Linked DNA regions of Homo sapiens: region 2 is linked to region 1. Evidence: fine-mapped expression QTL. Tissue or cell type: whole blood. Region 1 holds a variant in brackets; the other region holds the start of a gene. All regions are shown on one strand. Distances are from middle to middle.

Evidence for each region. PIP is the estimated chance that this variant, and not a neighbour inherited with it, causes the effect.
Region 2: it holds the start of F13A1, and the variant in region 1 is fine-mapped to the expression of F13A1 in whole blood (TOPMed, PIP above 0.99).

The regions. Positions count from the first base shown.
Region 1 is chr6:6,357,187-6,369,425 of GRCh38, forward strand. LY86-AS1 (LY86 antisense RNA 1) reads right to left here. Exons shown (of 8, transcript NR_026970.1): 5 at 11,816-11,969; 6 at 9,169-9,423. Among named protein-coding and RNA genes, the nearest start is that of F13A1, 43 kb to the left of the region's middle. RefSeq lists an enhancer at 4,436-5,635. The variant C/T (reference allele first, on the strand shown) is at 5,854.
Region 2 is chr6:6,316,897-6,329,091 of GRCh38, forward strand. It overlaps F13A1 (coagulation factor XIII A chain), which reads right to left and starts at 3,766. Exons shown (of 15, transcript NM_000129.4): 1 at 3,691-3,766; 2 at 1,639-1,786. The coding sequence starts at 1,768. The region is part of intron 1 of LOC124901253 (a long non-coding RNA gene); the gene reads left to right.

The DNA.
Region 1 (12,239 bases):
CCACGTTGGTCTCAGCTGAGCAGGTGGGTGTCTGCCTTGCCTTGAGCCACTGAGCAACTAGGAGCGTGAATATTATTTATTATTCGTAAGAAATGGAGCCAGTGCATTTCAGATATTTGCAGAGTGTTGCAGACATTAATGAGAGTGGAGAAGCGATCTGTTCCCTGGTGGACCCCTACTGCATTTATTCGAATGTGTGATTATTAAACTGCACAAGTCTCTCTGGGGCTCAATGCCCAGAGTGCATTACACCCTGGAGAATGTGAAAATACTTTAATTAACAACAGGAGTGGGCAGACCTGCTGAGTGCCTTCTGTTACCATCCTTGCGACCTGGAAAGTCAAGACTCATTTGTCACCCCCACCATTTTTCATTATTGATATAAAGAAAACACTAAGCAACAATTTCATTTGAAATCAATTGGAAAGGCTGCTAAATATAAGATATTTCACTCCTTTCCTTCCTCTGGCTGAAGTTTATTAGTAACCAACATTACACAAACACATGCACACATCAGCATGCTCACACACACATGAGAAATGAACTTGAGATTTCTCTATATTCCACGTGCTCTGCAAATAGTACGGCACTCTGGAGCGTATAGATGGAGAACATGCCAAATTGACTTGGAATATGCATCCATTTGAACATGTAAATTTGCATTAGTCAATTACTCAGTCTGATAAATGCTTTGGTTCATTAGTTTAAATAAAATACTGGGAAACTCCTAACACCCTAGCTGACTAAGAAATGATGTGTTTTTGTTTGTTTGTTTTTTAAATGTTGCTTCAGTGATTTCTGCCTGAACTGGTTGTATTTAAGACCATGTAGTACCCAACCACAATTTACAGGCCAGGAGAAGGGGCCTGCCATGGACACTGTGCAAAGATCAACTCTCATTTTTTAATCTTGTACCCTCTGTCCAGAACTGATGTGTTGCCGCGTGAGAACTGAATGTGAGGAGAGTGGTTGTGCACACGCATGCAAGCCAACCTTGGATGTTGCCCCACAGCTGGTCTGCAGTCTGGCTTCTTGTAGAATAGAGCCACTTCATGACATGGACTGGTTTGGCCAGAATTCAGAATTTACTTAACAAAGACCTAATTGTCACATCACTCTACCAATTCTTAATTATTTATCGAGCATCCACTAGCGCCCCAGATTGGCATAGGCCCCCAAAACAGTGGGCAACCCAGACGAGAAGAGACCAGTATCTGAGACACATTTGGAGAAAATTAAATGCTGATTTGTGACATTGAGACTTTAACCTCCTTAAAAGCATACTATTTTTCCAGAAGTATTGGGGAAAATACTTTTCCAGAAGTTTTGTTTTTTGCTTTTTTGATGTACTAAATGAGAGTGGAATGGACGGTGAAGCAAGAAGCTATTTTTTTTAAAATAAACTTTTCATTTCAGAAGAGTTTTAGATTTATAGGAATATTGTGAAGGCAGAACAGAGAGTTCCCATATGCCCACACACCCAGTTTCCCTATTATTAACATCTTACATTAGTCCAGTACTTTTGTTATAATTAACAAACCAATAGTAATACATTAGTATTAACTGAAGTCATACTTTATTCAGATTTCCTTAGGTTTTGCCTAATGTCCTTTTTCTGTTCCAGAACCCCATCCAGGCTACCACATTACATTTAGTCACTGTATCTCCTCAGGCTCCTCTGGGGACAGTTTCTTAGACTTTCCTAGTTTTGATGACCCTGACAGTTTTGAGAAACACTGGTCAGATATTGTGTAGAAGGCCCCTCAGTCGGGATTTGTCTAAAGTTGTCCTCATGAGTAGATGGGGGTTATGGTTTTGGAGGGAGAAAGACCACAGAGCTGAAGTGCCCTTTTCATCATGTGAGATCAAGAGTGTGTACTATCAACATGACTAATTGCAGGTGCCATACTTTTCTCCCCAAGAAGACTATTGTCTAAAAGTATTTGAGGCCTTCCCTGCCAAAGTAGACGTATAAGGCATCAGTCATACACCAAGTCATATACCTGATCCACTTCTTGGACTATGACCAGCTTCTCAGTTTACTCACATGGCTTATGGACCCTAATATTTGTCATGCAGCACTTGCTTTCCCTAGTAAGCATCATTTTCAGCATTAACATTAGATATTTAAAATGTACAGAGGCTATGAACTATCTTGAAGAGAATATACTTTCCACCTCATTCTAGAAAATCAAGTGTATCGTGATTTACTTGTGAGAAACCTCAGCAACTGAGTATTTCAAGAAAGAGCTGAACCCTTATATTGACTGACTTGGTGATTTTACATTTTAAATGTTCCTGTCACAGTTGAGTAGCTATAGGTACAATTTTTTCATGAGATAACTTGCGGGATTGAGAACAGGAGTGTTTACTGAGCATCTACTATATATAGACATTTTACATAGTGTACCTCATTTAATGACCACAGTAATCCTACATCCAGGTCAGGTATAATTGCATGCACTTCACAGAAAAGGAAGTGAACTGTCTGGTAAACCAGGGCACATGATGACGAATGATGAACTAGAATGTCTACATGACCCATATTCTTTCTACAATACACTCTACTCCTGCTGGAGTTGATAATGCTGTGTTCTAAGGGGATACAGATAGGTCTCTCTCTCATGCCTGAAGTGTCTCCATAAGTGATGCAAGACTTTTGATCTCCAAGAATTGCCAGACTTCAAGAATCTTCTGGAAAAATAAAAGGTTTTTTCTTTATATACATTAAACCTTGTATGTTTAGTAAAAAAGTTCTGTACATTTCTTCATTTTTCCTATATTTAGGCAAAGTTTCCCACTCTTTTTTGATAATGATATTTAAAAATGTCTTTAATAAAATTGCTCATAAAATTTATAGGACTTGCCAGAGAATCAAAGTGAGGGAAACTTTAATAATAGTGTACAATAGAAAAATACATACTAATGTGATTAGTATGAAAATGGAAGCAACATATGTATTAAAATAGATGGTTTTTTTTTTTCCTGTAATACACAAGGAGCTTGTATAACTTAATGAGAAAAAGAACAATCCAACACAACCATGAACAAAGCTCAGGAATAGGCCGTTTTCAAATGAGGAAATAAAAATGGCTAGTAAATATATGAAAAGATATTCAGACTCTTTACTAATCAAATAAATGCAAATCAAAACAACAGTAAGATTTTTGACACATCAAATTGGCAAAAATTGAAAATGCCGATTCCCAGAATTGGCGAGAATTTGAAACAAATAGTTTTTTAGCAATACCAATCATAGCTTAAGTGTACATTTCCTTTGAACCAGAAATTCCCCTTCTAGAAACTTATGCTGTAGAAATATTTGTCAAGTACACAAAGATATGTTTCCCTGGGTGTTAATTGCATCATGGTTTATAAATTACAAACTAGGAAACAATCCAGCTATCAATTAGTGGGGGTTTATTAAAACAAATTATAGCACATACACACAATGGAAAGCTATGCAAATCATTAAAAAAAGATATAAAGGAGAGCCACATTATGTTTTTGAGTGAAAGAATCATGTGGCTGAAGTTTATATTTTTTATCCAATGTGTGTCACTATATGTGACTTTGCCTACACATTCCCATACCTATCTTAATGCAGCAGTGATTGGACTTTACAAGAAAGAGAATCCTAAACGAGGCATAATCTTATTTTTTGCATGCACTGATAATGCATCTGCAAACAGACCAGCAATTTAGAAAAATATTTGTAAGCATAGTCAGGATGTTATAAGCATGAAGTTCAGCTATTCATTAAAAACATGCTGAATTAAGGTCATTGTACATTATTAACCAGGACTCTGTTAATAGTGCACAATGACCTCAATCTAAGACGTTCTAGGAAATATCAGAAGCATGGGAGTTATATAAGACGATTTCTTCAAACATATGGATTTCATTAATTGCATGGCTCCAGATTCGACTAGTCTTTTCTCTAATTCCTTTGTCACATGCTGAATGTTATAGAATGAAAAGGCATAAATAAACATCATTACAGAAAATGTTCCTTTGCTACTAGCTTTAAGTAATTGCTATTCAACTCTAAATAACCCACTTGAAAAAAAGAAAACATCATTAGTCTGAAATGTCTGCTAACGTTTTCTTTCTACTTTGTTAAGGTCCATTTAAGGAGAGACTTATCACAGCCATACTCAAATAATCTGATCCTCTAAAAATACTTTATAGTTAAGTTACACTGATGAAAGTAATGTATTTACCCAAGAGGTAAACACATTGCCTGGAAAATTCCTAATTGACAAAGGAGTAGGAATTTACCCTGTTGTGTGTGGGGCAAACCAATGGTGAGGCTCTGTGGCCCTCAGTGGAGAATAAAACCTATAACAGCAAGGGTAATGTTCACTCTATATGTCTACAAAGGCTGAACTTGGACGCCATTGTCTAGCATCTTTTGAACTAAGTCTAGAACAATGACACTCCCCTTGGACTTTCTAAGATACTTCTAGGGCTTTAAGTTTATCTGATATTTGGCAAATGCTCAGCACAATTTTGATTCAGAAAATAGTCACTCTAGCCATATCTAATATGGATGGTAAAAACTGGCTCATTATTATGTAGTTATGGAAAGTTGTCCAAAGGATGCCAGGTGTTCATCATGGCTACTATGATTTTGAGTGGAAAATGTGGACCCAAAAATCTTTTATGAGGAGGTACAGATACGCCACCTAAAACAATAACCTACTAAAAGCACTAAGAGAAATGAACAACAAATGAAGCAGCCATGGGAAATACATCAAGAAAGTATGGCAATCTGGCTGGACCCAAGGAGTGCTTTGAACAGCAGCAAGCTCTAGAAATAGCAGCAGAACTTAGCCCAGTCTGGTTTGTGGGCTGCTGGTCATGCAGTGTGGTCTTTTTGGTCACCTTTGCTCACAAAGGTAGAGTTCATTGGAACAAGGGACTGTTATAACATCTTTCAACCTGGTATTCATTTTTGAATCATTGCATAACATTTACATGGAATAACACATACCAAGTTTTGAATAGTAACAGGCGCAACCTCAAAGGCACCATGACTTGGATAGGCCTTCAAAAGTCCAGCGACTTGGTTGAATGAATCATAATCTCTTTGATCTAACATCTGGACGGCAACCCCTTTAAGGATCTCATTTCCTGTATATTCACATCTCTTCCTTGCATAACAATATCCACCTTCAGACACACACAGGGTAAAAGCAGAGAAAATTTTCAGAGTCTAAGCTCAACAACAATTTTGTTTATTCCAGCATCATGGTTCAGCCTTTTGTTTTTACTTTTCAAAAACATTTTTAAAACAAATTGGGTATTTTTTATTACTACAGTCCTAATGTTTTACATATTGCTTAGCACATAATTGACAGTAAACAGTTAAGGAAGGAGTAATGGAGAAGGGGAAGGAGTTTATTTGAGAGAGTTGGGGCTTAATTATCTGTCACATCTTCAATTCCCAGATTTCCTGCAGCATGAGTCAACTACTAACCCAGTGAGCAACAGAAAATTTCACATCGTTTTAAGAAAGATAGTGGGGCAATCTTATTTCTACTGCCAGCAAAACCTAGGATGGCAGCAGCAGAAAAAGGTATAAAACATAATTTAGAGGTTAAGAGCAACTGGGGCAATGAGCTAGATACCCTAGTTGTGACGACAGACCCACAAAGTGGGGCGTCAGGTTGGGAATTCTGTGATTAATGGCTCTACAAAGGGAGAGATTTTAAAGAAGCAGAATATTTTATAAGTATCTTCCTAGTGTTCCTGTAGGCCCCTGACCAAATCTTTCTGATGATAAAAATAGCATTTCAACAATCATAGATCAATACTTCTGGGTCTCCACCCCTCCATTCTCTGATAAAT[C/T]TCTGGCCTTTCTCAAACTCTTCATGCAGAACCATTGATAAACTCAACAAGCATCTATGAGCCACGACTAATATGTGCCAGTCATGGTATGAGGAATACAGCTGTGAAAAGGATAGTCATGAGCCCTTCTGTGAGGAGCTGATAATGTGATGAAGGGTTCTGGGCTCTCCCAGAGATGGTCTCACTTGTACTCTGAGTGCCAGTGCTGTTGGCTCTAAGAGACATCCAATGCTCTTCTTTCCTCGTCCCATTTTCTTTGGGGATGATCCCTACCCTTAGCTGTACCCAACCAGCACTGCTGTGGTCAGTGCCCAGAAGTCACACTGCTCCTCTGATGGCGCCCATCAGATTGCTCCAAGGCTGGTCTTGCACCTGTTAACCTATTTCCTGTTTGCCTGAGAATACTCTTGTCTCTCATCTTAATGTAACATCATATACATCTGTGTTACATTAGGATTAGAGACAAGTTCTGTTTAGAAATAACTACATGAAGTGTTTTTATATTTTATTTTCACATTGCAAATCAGTCAGATTTGCTTCAGCCTCAAACAGCATGTTTATGTAAATTAAATGAGCACTGGTAGCAAGCTGCACTTGTTTCATTTTTTTCTAAATGGGAAATAGGAAATGGGCTAAAAATATGGAGGACCATGGCCAGGCTGCCATTGGCTGAGGAAGCTGAAGCCATTGGGGGCATTTCCCATGGTGGCAGAAGGTGCCAGCACCCATGTTCATGGCATCTTGTCCTTTCCATGGCCCACAAGGACTTTTGTCAACAGGCTTTGCAATGAACAACAGTCCTTCTCTCAAAAACTTCACATTCTAGAGGGAGAAAATTGGGGAAGGACATATATATATACACATATATACATATATATATTACATATACACACACACACATATATATATATACACACATATACATATGTTCAACTCCATCAGCTAGTGGTGACCATTATCAAGAAAAACAAAAACAAAGGACAATAAGCAGAGAGAAAGTGATGGTAGAGATCACTTTTATATAGTGATCGTCAAGGGCCACTCTGACAAGGTGGCATTTGGGCTGAGACTGAATAAAGTGAGGTGGTCAAATGGATATCTGGGGGAAGGGCATCCCAGTGGAGGGACCTACTCGTGCAAAGGACCTGACGTAGGATTGCACCTGACATCTTCAGGCCACCCCTAGTAAGTGAGTGTGGTATGATCAAGATGAACATGAAGGAAATGAGGTCAGGTAGTGAAGGAGCTGGATTTCATAGGGTCTTGCAGACCTTGAGAAGGGCTTGGGGTTTTCTTCTGAGTTAGGTAAGAAGCCATGGTAGGGGTTGCACAGAGGGCAGCACAATCTGACCTCGGTTGTAGAATCAGCACAGACTGGCTGGGGTGTAGTGAATAGATCGAAGGGTGCTGAGAGGGAGATATTTGGGGGCGGGCAAAAGGTGATGGTAACTTGGGTAAGGTTAGTAATAGTAGAGGGGTTGGAGAGCATGCTTGGACTCAGAATTTGCTTTGTGTTGGATGTGAGGTGGGAGGGAAAAGCAGTTAAGGACAACTTCAGGATTTTTAGCCTGAGAAACTCTAGAAGTACTGCTAGCTATCTTTAATTGGAATGTGAAAGTCTAAGGGGAAGAAAGCTTATGGAGCAAGATCAGAACTTCGGTTATGGACAAGTTGATTTCAGATGCATATTAAACATCCAGTGGAGATACTGACTAGGCAGCTGATTACACAGGATTGGAGCATAGGAAGACATCTGGACCAGTGAGTTAACATTGGGAGTGTTCATCTTATAAGTTCATTGGACTAAATGAAATCGATGAGGCACTAAGCATTAATATTAAACAGATAAGAGAAAAATTCTGAGGACTTCTGAAGGATCCTGGAGACCTGCAGCATCCAGGGCTAAAGAAAGGATGAGAGTGTGTTTAAGGAAAAAAAAAAAAAAAACAACCCTGAGGAGGAGTAGCCTGTGAAAATACTATTCTGAAAGCACAGTGAAGAAATTGTGTCAAAGAGAAGGGAGTGGTCAAGTGTACCGAATACTTTTGACACATTGAGGAAAACGAGTATAGGGGTTGATGGAGAATTGAAGACTAGCATTGTCAACATGGAGGTCATCGGTCGGTGAACAATTAGTTTATTTTCTAAACTGGGACACTTTTAAGAGTGAAAGAGGATATGTACTAGTAATCTATTTCTGTACAACAAATTATCCCCAAAGCTCAGTGCTGTGTTAACACAGCAAACATTTATTACCTCCTACAGTTTAGATGGTCTAGAATTTAGAATTTGGTACAGGTTCTGGCTCAGCACCTCTCATGAGATGGCAGCCAGCTATTGGCTGGGACTGCAGTCATCTAAAGGCTTCACTGGGGCTGTGAGATCTGTTTCCAAGGTGACTCAGTCACATGGCTGGAAAGTTAGTACCAGTTGTTGGCAAGGGCTTCAGTGCCTCCCCACGCGGGCATCCCACAGACAGCTTGAGTATTCTAACAACATGGCAACTGTCTTCCCCCGGGTCAAGCAACCCGAGAGAGCAAGGCTGAAGTGGTTACTTATGTTGGCCCTACTCAATCTGGAAGGGGTCCCAGAAGAGTGTGAACAATTGGAGACTAGAGACTAGGATAATTAATTGAGGGCCATCTTCAAGGATAACTACAGCAGGGTTTATCCATATTTATGCTCAGGTAGCAGATATACACTGGGACCATCGCAGGCAAACTGAGATGCATGGTCACCCTAATCTTTGGTGACTTTGGGGAGTGTAGTGATAGAGATGAGAACCACATCAATGAAATCCAAGCCCAGATCTATTGCTCAATCACTCAATTAAAAAATAAGCTAATTTCTCATTTATTTCCACTAGACTTGAAGCAAGTGGAATGGTGAATGTGATGGATGCTCATTTTACCATTAACTTGCAGTCCAACAGGGTTAAGCAGAGTCGAGATGGAAATTTAGATTATATTTAATTAGATTTATTATCTAATAACATTGTTTTAGTACCTGGATCCGGCCAAGCCTAAAGCTCACATTAACTATAACAGTCATCACATTCTTCCCCCATCCTCCTTAAACATTTTAACTTAGACCTTTTTTTTTTTTTTGGAAATTTACAACCAAAGGAATCCAAATTAATGTCTCCCTTGTTTAAATAGATCCTTGTTGAACACCATCTACTAATCTCCCAGACACACCTAGGCGTGTCTGAGTGCAGGGTAAACATAGTTTAAACTCAATCTGGTCTCCCTGGTACACTAAGAAGGCTGTTCAGGTCATCTCCTTTAAGAACTTCAACTTGCACTAGCATCTTACCTAGTGATTATGATTAGAAGATGGATTTTATATGTAGGAGTATATATTGACATTGAGCTGATATCAGTATTTGAGCAATCCATAAAAGTCAATCTTCAAGATGGGCAATGACACAGGTACTTCTTTAGAAATATCTTTACTCTGAAACACTGAGGGATCTTCCTTAAATCATTCCAGTAGCAAAAGCCTTGCCCTGAAAAATGTTGTCAGCAGAATAGCTGGACCACCCATCTGGAACCAAGTTGAAGTTCATCTCTATAAAGGAAAAGAAAATATCTGTAAATTGCATGCTAGTTGCTTTCTCTTCTGTTACCTTCTAACTACCCTTCTAGTTCATGTTTCCTTTAGTCATCCCAAGAACAGAACTAGGTTTTCATACAGCCTCTCAGGATTTATTCTACTTATAGTATATCTATCTTGAATTGGAATGTGATTAAAACTCTATAGGTGTTAGGGACATAGAAGAAAGGTTAGAGGTGAATAGAAAAAGACAGCAGTGGCTGTAATCGGCCTGCGGGGCTCTCTCCTGCTGGAGGTTATCCCACGCTGAGGACTGGGGACTTGCAGCCATCTGGAGGTTACTGTAGATCAGTGCCTCTTTGGAATGCACATGTAGAGGCGGAACAGGACTGAGCTGCGCCTGTAGAAAATTGAATGTGTCCATTGATCCGCTAAGTCTGAATAAACTCTCATTCTTGTTAGCACAGCAATTAGTCCTCATGGTCACTGGAGCATTGAAACAAGGCAGTTTGGCCCACTTGTCTTGTTTTCCTGTATTCCCAAACATGAAACACGTCCAGATTGGGACAGAACAAACCTCCTTCACTTTCAATCACCACCCGCTTCAAATTAAGAAGTAGACTGAGAAGCGGCAACAGCATGGAGGTGACATTTAATCTCAAGATCTACCCACTGCTGTTGCTCAACATTAGCTTGGCCCTTTCAAAGAACACAAGCATGTTCTGGGCATCTACTTTTTTTATATACATAATCTCGCTTAATCCTCACAAGTGAGATTTATACAGCAGCCTCTCTTGCAGAAGCACAGTTCACGCAGAACATGTGCATGTGGCAGAAACATCGGCGATGGGCAAAATCTGCTAATGGATTGAACCTAGAGGAAAGAACCAGCAAAGCCAAGTCATGATTCTAGATCCACCACAAGATCATTTGTGCTCAGTTTCCCTTAAAATGCAATAGACAACATTAAGGTAAGTAGAGGATCAGTGTTATCATGTTCAATGTAGAACTCTGAGCTTCTTCATGGAAAGGTGTTTAAAAATGGACGGTATGACAGCAGTTGAGTAGTCCTTTCACACTCAGACTTACCCAGAGTGGGTGGGGAGAATAATGTGAATTGAGCCCACTGCTGTCTCTGTGCAGTTCAATGTTCCCAGATGGCATATTCAATTAGAGTTTATTTCATCATCTTAAAAGAAACTTATTGAGAAGTTATATTCTACACTCAACAAGGGAGAAAAGCATATCAAGATGCTAGCTCTAATATGCTGTTACTCTTCCATAGTTCATGGCATAGAACCTGCCATAACTTTCCCCAGCCACACTTAGAGAACAAGACAGTGTCATGTCCTCTTTTGAGTGTCAGTTTCTCCCCCTTAAGCAGGGTATCTCGGCCTTGTCACTATTGATATTTGGAGCTGGATAAATGTTTGTTGGGGCAGGGTGGCTGCCTTGTGCATTGAAGGACTGTTTAGCAGCATTCCTGGCCTCCACCTGCCAGATGCCAATAGCAGTAATGACAACCAGAAGTGTCTCCAAACATTGCCAACTGTCTCCTGGGAGTAAAATCACCTCTGGTTGAGAACCACAGCCTTACAAAATGCATAGCAACTGAACTACATTGCTTGTTTGAGTTAGGAGGTGTAGAGGGCTGACTGATCATTTATGCAATCATCCATTTTATAGATGAAGCCACTGAAGCCAAACAAATGTGGTGCCTTGCTTTAGGTAACACAGGTAAGTGGTACAGCTATCATTAGAAACCAGGCTTACTGACTACTCCCTGACTACCTTATCTAAGTCTTGGTAATGGAAAAAAAAAATCCTATTATCATCTACCTGATCAGCGCAGTCTGTTTGAAGAAAGCCCACTAAATCTAGATGGGTTAGATCTAGATTTAGTCGGCTAAAACCGCAATTACTTTTGCACCAACCCAATACATTAGGTGAACCTGTAGTTCTGGAATAGTCAATGGAATGTGTGGCAAATTAAAAGTAATGGCAAATTAAAAGTAATTAAAAGTAATGGCAAAAACTGCAATTACTTTTGCACCAACCCAATATTATTGGTCTAATCCAAGCTCCTCTGAGGTCATGCTGATTTAGGCAAAATAACCCTCTGTCAATTTTTTACCTCCGTCTCCTCAGCCCCACTCTTCTGTTCCCTCTAGTCCCTATAGAAGCTGTGCTATTTCTAGGACACACAGTCACTGAGTATGTTGCAAGATTGAACATCTTCAAATCCTCTAGTGAGCTCCACACCCTTACACAAGCCAACACATGGTTAAATGGTCATGAGTGCAGTTGGTCAGTCCCACCACTGTGCTTCCTTCTTCAGCTCACTTGATTTTCCTTTCTCTGCCCTTAGAGTCACCCATCCCCTTCCATGTACCAAATTCTCACTCACCTTCAACCAAAAAATCCTAGAATGGCCCCTACTGTCAGAAGATCCATGCCCTCCAAATCTGAATTGATCGTAGACACTTTAGCTGAAGATTCCTTTCTTCTTTAAGTATGTCCACCAAATTCTGGGCCTTGCCCAAGAATCAACAGGTAATGTCCTGAAAAAAAAGAAAGAAAGAAAAGAAGAAAGAAAGAAAGAAAGAAAGAAAGAAAGAAAGAAAGAAAGAAAGAAAGAAAGAAAAAAAGAAAGAAAGAAAGGAAGGAAGGGAGAGGGAGGAGGGAAGGAGGGAGGGAGGAAGGGAGGAAGGAAGATGTTTGAGTATGCAAATGTGGTGACATAGAAAGAAATGGCACACGGGGTATTTATTCAGGACATTTTGGGATATAAGATGTGACTATCAAGTAATGCAATGTATTTTCACTTAAGA
Region 2 (12,195 bases), 40 kb before region 1:
CAGGAAGCCAGGTCTTCTGCCTCTGCTCTCTGCTTCCCTGCTTCCCTGCACTGCCTTTGTAGAGGTTCCCGTTTTTCCCAATCCTGGCAAGGGTGGCTGTGTCCTGACTCCTCGTGGCAAGGACGGTTGTGTCATTACTCCTCCTGTTCTTACTGCCCACTTCTTCCAGTGCCTACACCCCCTTTCCGGGGGCCCAGAGTCTTTTGGGCCACAGGGGAATTTTGCTAGAAGATGGAATACACAAAGGCAACCTGCTTAATAATTTGATATCTGTAGGCTTTTGCATTTTATTTGCATTCTTAAAGAAAAAGACTCGTAGACTGGGTAAGCAGTGAATATCAACTGCTTACCTTCAGCCTCTATTTCCTAACATATAACATGGGGATGAGGATTCATTGATTAGCAAGTCCTCTTAAACTCAGTTCTGTGGCTGTCAAGGTGGGGTTTTAGAGAGTGGCATCCAGCTGGGAGACAGATTTCAGAACTACAAGTTCGTCTTAGCCCCTCAAACTCTACCACCTGACTGAAGATGCCCTTCTGTTCTGTGAACTTCTTTTCCCAAACTTGGATGGTACTGGATACCTCCCTGATTTCACTATTTGATATCAAATCATCTAGTGTGACAGTAACACAATGACACCAGTCCACAACACCTGGGCAAGTGTCTGGCTTGCTGGATAAACTGCACTTCCCCTTTCCCTTTGCTATATGGAGAGCTGCATCAATCTGGGCTTTCAGGCATTGGTCTCCTTCTAATGAGGGGAATCGACCACACAGCTCCAGCATGACCATGCTCACCTATCCCAGCAAATAGGTGTTTATCCCCAGTGAAACCCAGCACAGAACACCCTTAGGAGTAAAATTAGATTTTGGTGCATGAATGTTATTGACAAAAAAGACTCCCTGCTCAATGCCACTCGGGGACATGAGTCTGAATGTCCCTGCCATGGCCCAGGGGAATGATGTCTGTATCACCAAACCAGTGCTGGCACCTGGACCTTGTCACCACTGACAGGGCTGAGAGGAGGTCAGCTGCCGGCTGCTGTACCCGGAACAGGTTTCTAGGGATCAGGCAGAGGCAAGAGGCTGGGGAAGCAGCTTGCCTTGCCAGCTCACCAGGCTGCTCTGGAGAGAAATAGAGGGCTTCTATCTCTATTACTGTCAGAGTCTGGCACTTCTCCCCGGCTCTGAAATTCACAGCAATGGATGGAGGAGGGAGGAGGGAGAAGGAAGGAGGTGCAAGCCAGACAATCAAAACAGCCACAATATTTTGGAAGTGGAATATTCCAGCTAGAGAAAATTCTCTAAAGCATTGAGCAGTAGGGCTGGAAGAGGCCCTAGCTAATCCAGCACTCTGGTTTTGTAGAGGAAATAGTTGAGAGGCAGAAAGACAAAGCAACTTCTCTGAGGTTACAAGGTCAGTAAGGGGCAGAACTGGGACAAGGCTCTGGGTCTTCGGTGCTTTCACCACTTAAAAGAAAGCTTTTGCTTTCTTCCTTTATAAAACCAGAGATTGGCAGGGGGCTTCCTTTTGTGGGAACCCCAGTGGAGACAGAGGATGTTTACCTGCAGGGAAGAGGGGCCAGGGCCCGGCTGTGCCTGGACCCAGAGTGGTGGGGAAGGGGGGTATGCTCATACCTTGCAGGTTGACGCCCCGGGGCACCACGCCCTGAAGCTCCACTGTGGGCAGGTCATCTTCCGCTGCATTAGAGTTATTGGGTGGAACTGCTCTTCTGCCTCCAAAGGCGGTCCTGGAAGTTTCTGACATTTTTGACTTTACAAGGTCCTTCAGAAAAAAAAAAAAAAGAAGACAACAGAAAAGGCATGTAAAGTGAGTAACATTTGAGACAAGGATTCCAAAATAGAGAAACAGATATATCTGTGTGTGATAGCACTTGAGCAACACATTTTGCCGTTTGCATAAATAAAAACTGAGAAGTGGCAGCAAGGATTAGTCTAATGATGGAATACAGTTCCCCAAGGATCTTGGGGAGATTTTTGTATGTGTCAAAACATATGGAAAGCAGAAGAAAAGGGGCTTATTCAAAGAAATTTAAAAATTAAAAGATTTTTGGAGACCCAGATTCCCCCACCCTCCATAATCCTACAGCAGCATCTTCGCAAGAAATGTTTCCTGTTATATGCATGTGCTGTATCTATGTTCATTTCATACAGATTTATGAGATTATAAGTCACTTTTAAGAATAAACGCACACAACCATGTCCAGACAAATGTTGTCTTCTAAAGCGTTTACATTTGCAATTTAATTCAACCAATATTTATTGAGGGCCTATGACATGCCAGGCTGTGATCTAGGTACATGGGATACATCAGAGAACAAAACAGAATGTTTGCTCTGATAGATTATAGTCTGATAGGGTTAGGGTGGAGCCCAAGAAGAGCCATAAGTAAATCCACTTAGGGGTGAGGAGGTAGGAACTGCTTTGGAAATTGAGCCACATGGAGGAGGATAAGGAGGTGGAGAGGTTGGGCATGCAATTTTCAATAGGGCTATCAATAGGCTTAAGAAGTCAGGGTTGCCAACATTTCCCATTCCCCAAGCCTGCTTCCCCTTCCCTTGGAGCTTGTGCAGGCACTGAGCCAGTTTAAACAACACACACCTGACGGTCAGTGCCCAGTAAGTACTTGTTGACCAAATGACCAAATGAAGGGGGACTTTGTTTCTGGGCCCAGTGAAGGTTCCCCCTTGATCCCCTGGATTACCCAGTCATGACTCCTGGAGACTTGGCTATTTTCAAAAACCAGGCACACCCCCAAGAGGTGAAGAGTCCCCATTATAGAGGCCACCAGAGTAGAGAGATGGTTCCAGAGACATGTGGAGCACTAACAACATGCTGGAGAAAAGACAACCACGCCTAAGGTGTCTGGTCTGAGAAGGAGACAGGAGTGTTTGGATGCATAAGGTGTGAATGGGTATCCATAAGTATAGATAAATATATTTACAGTCATTGGTGAGCTGACGGGGGAAGGGAGGGAGAAGAGCGAAAAAGGGTTAATGATAGGGAGAAGGCTGCGAGAGCCATCCTCTAGTGAGAAATACCGAAGGTAGGCTGCGGCATTGCCAGGGGTGCAGAACAGTGTGGCGCGCTGTCGGGAGACACAGTGCTAAGGGGGAGAAGGGGGGAGCCCCAGGTGCACGCCTGGCTGGGTGAGTGCGGCGGGCAGGAGCCCTCGCTTCTGGGCGGGTCTAAGGAGGAGAAGTGGCTCGAGTTCAGCTCCAAATTGGGACGGAGGCAGGCGATGCGCAGGAGTGGGGAGGCGCGCAGGAGTGGGGAGCCAAGCCGGCGGGGTTCCAGTCTAGCAGGCTGTTCTCACTTGGCCCCACTCCCTCCACCTTTTGTGTTCCAGCTCCATAATCTGCTCCCTGAGGAAAGGGGGCTCGTCCCTTGGGGAAGCACCTCCAACTCCCCCATCCCCATTTGGTGGCATTCTAAGCAAGCAACGGCTTCGGGAGAGCTGCCTCGAGAGCCTGAGAGAAGTCCCGCTTAGAAGCTGGGCTGGGCAGGTGCGGAGTTGGGGGCGGGAAGCCAGGATTGGGCAAGTGGAGCTGCCTGTGACCGGCGCCACAGGGCCCAGAGCAAGCCGCTTGCTGGTTCAACCAGGAAACCGAGGTGCAGAAGGTGGACGCAGCGGGCCCTGGCTCATAGGGTGCAGGGTCGGTGGCTTACCTGCAGGCGCTCCCCTCCAGAGGTGCCCTCGCGTGGGCTTGCTCTGTGCGCCTCGGGGACTTCCTCAAACGGACTCGGGAAAGACAAGACAGTTGGCTCTTAAATAACTTCCTAAGAGGAGCCCTCACCCTCCTCCCCTGTCCCACAGGGTTTTCTCCTCCCCCTTCTCCACAGCTGGAGCCAGTAGGGGAGCTCAGAGGATTTTCTATTTACTTCATCTGGCCTGTTATCCCGGCAGGTGCGCCCTTCTCTCCCACTTGCCCCTCTGACTCCCAATTTCCCATTCCCACTTCTCCTCCCCATCCCCATCCCTAGATCTGCCCTCCCCACCGCAACCAGTTGCTGGGAGTACCAGGCAAGGGGCCCTGCAGTGCCAGGAAGTCCCCACCCGTCCCCTTTGGTCAGAGGGTCTGGGAGGGTTTCCTTTACAAAGGAATGCTTTTGCCTGGCAGGTCAGCTGCTACTGTGGCTTGGCAGGAGGGGGGTCTGCCCTCCCACAGACAGGTCACACAGACAGTTGTGACCATGCATGCAGTGAGAGCAACGTGTCCCTCCTGTGCAAATAAGGCATGGTCTGCATTCCTGAATCATCCCAGAGCCACAGCCACCGCCTAACCACAAGACTTCCTGCAGGAATGGGATGCCTAGCCCCAAGGAAGATGAGTAAACATCTTTAATAATGCCATGCAGATTAGAAAATAACACTTGGTTTTCTCTGAAAATCATTTTAGTGCATGTTCAAAAATTAGAAAATTTTCCCCCTAAAATTTTAATTTTTTTCTTTTACTCTTTCTTTCTTTCTTTCTTTCATCTTTCTATCTTTCAGATGAAGTCTTGCTCTGTTGCAAAGGCTGGAGTGCAACCTCCACCTCCCGGGTTCAAGTGATTCTTCTGCCTCAGCCTCCCAAGTAGCTGGAACTACAGGTGCATGCCACCATGCCCGCCTAATTTTTGTATTTTTAGTAGAGATGGGGCTTTACCATGTTGGCCAGGCTGGTCTCGAACTTCTGACCTCAGGTGATCCACCCTCCTTGGCTTCCCAAAGTGTTGGGATTACAGGCGTGAGCCACCGCACCCAGTCAAACATGGCTATTTCTAACCTTCTTTACTGTCTTCAAATTTCTGACCCTGCCACTCAATCTCCCAATGTTATAAAGAAGAAAAAAAAAGATGCCATTGGTTAGAAATTCTCTCAATTTTCTGCTACCAATCTATGAACCTGCCTGCAACCTTATCTATCTTTTCCTCTTTCTTCTTGTTACTGAAGTTGGAAAGGTCCCTCCTCCCTCTGCATCTCCAAACCAGGCTTCTGCGTTGCCTTGTTCTCCGGGGCTTTGCTGTGACTCTTACGTACTCTTCCTCTTGCAGCTTCAAGCTCCTGCTTGCTAATAGTGGGTCTTCTCAGCATTCATGCAATTTCAGGTCTCTTCAGTATTTTTTTAAAAACCTCCCCCAACCTATGTCCCCACTCCTGCTGTTACTCCTCCTCTCCTCCCCTTCATCACTAAGTATCTGCCATCTGGCTTCCGCCTCATCATTCTACTGAAAGTGGAGGTCACGGTCTCCAAGGCCTGTGCTCAGGCCAAAAGACAGGATTCAGTTCTTATTTACCTGACCTTTTGGAAGCATTGAACTCTGTCTTTGAAGGTATTTTTCCTAGGCCTCCTTGACATTGAACACTCTGTGGTTTCCTCCAGTGCAGCGCAATATTCCTTGATTGTCTGAGGAACTCCCATAGTTTTCAAATTCCATCTATATCCTGACACCTCCCAAATCTGGGTCTTTAGCCAAGATCTTTTCCAGAATTGCAGATTCCCGTATCTAAGTGCCTACTGGCTATCCTCATTTGTCACATCCCAGTGACAACACACGCTCATCATGTCTAACATGAGATGTATCACTTTCCTGGAAAACCTGGTGCATCTCAGGAGTTCCCTACCTCAATGAATACCATCACTTTGCACGCAGGTGGTACACCAGACACATGGGCATCATTCTTGAGGCTTCCTTGTTTCTCTCCCTCAATCATCAAATCCGATCCTTGAGCAAATATTTTCTATCCTACCTCTTAAACAGCCCTTGAATCTACCCGTGTATGTACCCCTTTCCAGTCCATTCTCTACAGTGCAGTCAGAATGAGCATTTCAGGGCTAAAATCCGAAATCAAATTATTTGCACAAAGCCCTTATATGGCTACTTCTCTTTGCTTTTTGGATAAATTGCAAGCTGAAACTGACAAGGCCTATACAAGCTGGACCCTGCCTCTAGCACTGCTCTTTCCCTCAGCATCCATACAATTTGAGGTCTCCAGTATTTTTAAAAAACCTTCCCCCAACACCAATCTACCCTCCCTGCCTTCCACTGTTGTTTCTCCTCTCCTCCTCTTCATCACTAAGCTTCTGCCATTTGGCTTCCATCTTTCTTCCCTATCATCTTCCTCTGCCATCTTTCTTCCCTGCCCAGTCTCCCTCCACTGACTCCCCAGTTGTCTTGCAAGGAGTTTGCCTTGTTGTAGTGCTCCTCACACTGCATGATCATTTTCTGTTTCCTTGGCTGTACCTGCACTAGAGTACAAAAAGGTAGGGACTCCAGCCAGAGTTCCCTGGAGAGAGGCTGCTGACCACTTAACTATCCAAAGGCCGTCTTTGCCACATCCCTTGCTGAGTGCTAGAGAAAGACCCTAAAGATGTCTAGCACTGCTTCCCCTCAGCATTCATACAATTTCAGGTCTCCTCAGTATTTTTAAACCCTCCCCCAATCCTTAACGATCATATTCTGGTAGTTCTCCTGGCAAACATCAAATCTGAGTGTCTAGAATTCCAAGATACCCTCATCCATGTGGGGTTGGAGGATGAGCAGCCACCCTTGCACCCTTCAGATGAGGTTACGCAGATGCCAGGTACCCCTGGGACTTGGGGTTGAGTTGTGCATTCAGAACAGGATTGTCACCCTCACAACCACCTCCACGGTGTCACTTTTGGCCTTAGACTAATTATTGGCTTTGTGAACATACACACACAGTGGTTGGCTTTCTGACTCCCCCAAACCACTAACCTCAAGAGCATCATAAATGCAATGGCTTTCCTTGTGCTAAACAAAGTCGATAAAAATGTGTCTAAGCCACCAAGCCCTAGAATGCGGTTGAAGCCCATTCATTTTACAGGGTATTCCTCATGGTTATATGGCTGAGACATCAGAACAAAGGTTTCTGGTCACACAGTGAATCTTGAACTGTGCTAGGGATGCAACTTCCACAGGTGCATAGGCTCTGAGGTCCTTAAGGATGGGATGGTGTCTTTTATTTCTGAATGCCCCCTGCCTGGCATGGAAGTGGAGCCATGTAAATATTTAAGGCATGTAACAGACGGGGTTCATCCAGGAAAACAAAAACCACTTTAGGTCTTTCTAAAAGAAGGAATTTAAGGCAGGGGATTGGTTACACAGGTGAGAGAAGAGACAAGAAACCAAACACGAGAAGGTGAATCAACTCCACAATTAGCAACAGCAGAGAGGAGTTGGTGTCGTTGTAGCGGGAGGACTGAGGGTAGGTCAGGCACTGGAACCGTGTGGTCCTGTCTGGTGGGAGCTTTAGATCCCATAATTCCAAGAAACACTGTCTGAGGTCAAGAGGGAGGGAAGAATGATCCTAGCTTGTCCCTTTCTTCCCGCTCCCTCTCCCTCCCTTGTCTGCCGTTTTGCTGAACTCCACTAGAATCAGTTGACAAAGGACTCTGGAAAATACCGCCTGCAAAGTTAGCCCCACCACTCCTGTGCTGGGGCCCCAAGGCTACCCCCAGGTTCTGTGATTCACTAGGAGGACTCACCAGACTCGGCCACCCACGTAGCTATGATCAGATACAAATGTACATATATCATATATACTACACGATAAATCATGACGAAAAGATACAAATCCAAATCAGCAGAGAAAAGGCACTTGGGCAAAGTCTGGAGGACCAGGCAGAAGTTCCCAAAGGTCCTGTCCTAATCAAGGCACATGGGCTGTGCCTACCAACCCTGGCAATGAGTTGTGACAACACTGATATAATGTCATCTGCCAGGGATGCTCACCAGAGGCTCAGTGCTCAGGGTGTTTATGGGGGGCTGGTCACATAGGTACCCTCTACCTAGCTCATAGCCATTTTCCAGACTCCCTGAAGGAAGCAGGTGTTAAGCATGAGCCACAATTTTTGTACAGTTTAGGCCCAGCCAGCCCCACTTGTCAGTTAGGGAACAGTGGGAAGACTCCTGAAGTCCAAGTTCCCAGATGCCAGACAAGGGCCAAGCTTGCAAGTAGGGCTTTCTAAGCCAGTTTCAGGTTTGCTATGTTAACTCTTTACTGCATCCATACAGGGAAAGGGTGAGGAAAGGCTCTCTGGGCAAACAGTTCCAGGACTGCCACAACACACTGTGCTCTTTCATCATGGCATGGCCAGTCCCTCACATGAGATGTCAATAGGCCTGGAGCACGAGGAGACTCCAATGAGAACGTCACAAGGGTAATCCAGTTCTGCCCCTACTTTCTTGGCCTTACCAGCTCAGCATGAGACCTCCAAGGAGACGTGAACTCCCTCTGGCTGCACGGGCCTGGGCATACCTTCTCACTCTTCTGAAGCTGAAGGGCTCACCCCATTGCCTCCCCAAGAAGCAGGGTAAAAATTCCTAAACACATCACTCTGGGATCCTGGCGTCTCTCAGAAATATGTAGTAAACTTTGGGAGTTGTGAGTAAACAGAAAATACGTGGGAGGAGGGATTCCGGATCCCCTTACCTTGATCCTTTAATTCTGAGTTTTCATTTCTATGGTATTGACACTTTTCTCTGCAGTCTCTCCAGACAAACCATCTTTCTCCTACTTGGCAATACCCAAGGAGCAGACCATATTTGTTCAGGCAATGAATTTTCTGGCAAACTCTATTTGATTTACATGCAAAACTTCACATCTCAAACAAACAAACAAAAAACCCAGTCATGTCTGGACGCTGCTGGTTTTTTCCAGCTGAACAAGACCTGGATTTTGTTGGTTATAGATGTAATTCCAGAGGGAGGTGAGTAGATACATAAATAACAACTGGCCTTGTTCAAAGATGCCAGACCCTCTGACATGAATGACCCAAGTTCGTCTCTTGGGAGAGTCTTTCTCCTGCACTGCCCTTCATCCTGTAGGAGCTGGAGAAAACTTTCCACTCCAGATGGAAGTGTCCTGGGGGAGAGGATGGAAGGGAGGCTGGGTGGGCAGTTTGTAGTCAGGTTCTAGCCACAGTAGTGAGCAGTGGGGGAAGGCAAGCGGCCCTCTGTATCCATTCACATATTTTTCAAAGCCTCACGAGCGTTTTCACAAAGTCTGGCAATGACATTTTAAAAGGAATTTATAAAGCATCATCGCAGTTGCCACCACAATAGGGCGTGGGATCTAAGACAGGACCATGTCTCCCACAGCCTCTTTTCCTTCTTCTTTCAGGAAAGATGAAAACCCATGCCAGGGACAGGTCCAGATGGCAGGAGTTTTCTCTTTGCTTTGGCTTCCCTGGGCATAGCCCACTCTTGCCAGGGATCTACGATCACCTGTAATCTACCTTCCCGAGGAGCAGTGATGGATTGCTGGGGGCTGCCTCACCTCATGGCAGGCAAATGGAAGAAAGCTGTTCTCGCCTTAGGAAAGAAAGATTTAACTAATGTACCCACCTTCTTACAGTAAATATCTCTGTCTTAAAAAAAATTTTAATTGTGGTAAAATACACATAAAATTTATAATCTTAACCATTTTTCAGTATACAATTCAGTAGTGTTAAGGCTATTCATGGTATTGTATGACCCATCTCCAGAATGTTTCTGTCTTGCAAAACTGAAACTCTGTTTCCATTAAACAACTCCCTGTGAATATGTGTGTCTGTGTGTGTCTGGCTATATATTTGTGAGTGTATATGTCTGTCTGCATGTGACTGTGCACACATCTGTGTGAGCGACTGAGTGTGTCTGAGTATCTGTGTGTATGGGTATTTCTGAGCATGTATGCCTCTGTGTGTATGCATTGTCTACGTGAGTGTATGTGTCTGTGAGTGTGTGCACATCTGTGTGAGCAAGTGTGCCGTGCATATGAGCGAGTATGCAGGTGGAAGGGAAGGACTGAGGAAGCACTGAGGGTTTAGCTCCAGAAAACTTTCTCCACTGGCTTCCTAACTCCTCCAGAGTCCTGATGGAGTTTAAGGAGACTCCAAGAGATTTTTAAACTTGAAAAGACTTTATAAAACATGACGAAGGGTCAACTAGAAGTAGGTCTGTTACAGATAACGATTTTTCAAGTTTAAAGGAAAGAAATTTCATAAAAAATGAAAAATTCATAAAAAAAGAAAATTTCATAAAAAATGCTAGAAACACCCACAGTGGGAAGAGACATCAGTCATGCCAGCCTCACTGCATATGACACAGATGCATGCATGGTTTAATTCAATACTTTTCCTTAAGTGAAGCAAGAGACCCCACATCCACCCATCCCAAGTATCTCACTTTGCCAGAGGAAAAATTCAATGATAACAAAACATTATGAAAAAATTAGTAATTAAAATAATACAGCAATGTGTATGAACAAAATAATCAATGAAAGTGAAACCTAATAGTAATTCCACAAACTTATTACAAAGCTATTAATTTAAAGAGTAGTGGCAATTGAAAACCACAACCAACACCAGATAATGGGGATGCTATAAAAACAATGCTTGCTTCAGTAAAACTATCAGAATGCTGACTAAATGTGTATGCACATATGTGTGCATGTGTGTGTGTGTGTGTGTGTGTGTACAAGTACAGTAGGAGCTTTGGAGTGTTCCCAAGAGTAATATGGCAGCTGGAGTTAGAATCTACTATCTATGTAACCTTGGGCACATTACTTAACCTCACCTGTAAAATGGTGATCCTAATAATGTATACCTCACAAGATTATGAAGATCAAAGAAGAGAATACCTATAAAAAGGTTTGTATAGTCCCTGGCAAGAAGCTAGCTCTAAATAAATATTACCAGTAATGGTATGTGTGCACTGGACAACCTTCACTCATCCATGATGAATATTTTAACTTTTTGTAATAGTTATTACCTGTATTTTCTCATTATCATCCTCATATCAGGGAAGTGAATATTTAAGTTGCTAATAATTTTGGATAATTTGAAGAGGCCATTATCAGCATTTATTGCAGTATTTTCTGTCTAGAACCTCTTCAAGAGCTTCATGTGCAATTCATGCTTGTCAAGGGGTGAGATTTATAATTGGCTGGTTGTGGTTGTATATGTGAGGATATGTATATGTGAGGATATGTATATGTAAGGGTCTATTTCTCTTGCTCTGTCACCCAGGCAGGAGTGCAGTGGCGCGATCTCAGCTCACTGCAAGCTCTGCCTCCCGGGTTCACGCCATTCTCCTGCCTCAGCCTCCTGAGTAGCTGGGATTACAGGTGCCCGCCACCACGCCCGGCTAATTTTTGTATTTTTAGTAGAGACGGGGTTTCACCGTGTTAGCCAGGATGGTCTCAATCTCCTCGTGATCCGCTCGCCTCAGCCTCCGAAAGTGCTGGGATTATAGGCGTGAGCCACCGCGCCCAGCCAATGCCTTCCATTTTTAAGCTATATAAGAAAGATGTCTGGGGAGTGGGTCAGAGACTGATTTTATTTGATATATACCAAGTGAAGGCACCAGCTTCCACATGGTTGCCAGTGAAGGGACCAGCTTCCACATGTTGCCAGTTCTTTCTGGAAGCCCACATCCAGGTAGGCTTCCTGGGCAGACCCACGGGCATCTCACCAAACTCTTCTAATGAGGTCTGTGGCTATGGGTCAGCAGGGTGCCCCTGTCTTGGGCACTCTTGCCCAAGAGTGCCGCTGCCCTCTGTTGTAGTCGCACAACTGCACCTTCTTGCTGATGAGGTGAAGCACTAACACAAGGCCAGAAATGGAAGGGACATGATGTCAGCTGGAGTCTTCCTAACAGCAGAACTTCTGGATAATGATCTATGAATTTCTAAGGAAAGCCAAAGGCCATTGCATAATCGCATGTGTGGGTGCTAAAACAGCCAAATAAAGGGGCAAGTTCTCCTTTCTTTGATGCTCCCTCAGCAATTTCTGCAGTGAAGTTTCAGATAACTGTGCCAGAGCCCTTCCTGTGAAAGTGTTTCTTGTTAATGCATTTCTCCTCTCACAATGGTAACTATAAGTGGTTAAAATAGCATCAGAAACACTAACTCTATCATATGGACATATATCATGATTCACTAAAAATATTTCCCACAATGCAGTTTTAACTTAAACAAAAGTTGTTTATATATACGTGTGTGTGTGCATGTGTGTATTAATAAATATAGACAGTGTAACTTACCCAGAAGAGTTCCTTATGCCTATGTTCTGAAAAAGACAGCACAGATGCCCAAAAATATAAGAAATTTTATAAGGGGCTTTTAGTGGTCCAAGATTCTCCTGCTGGCTTCTATGAGTGATAATGATCTAGAATTCTTCGAAA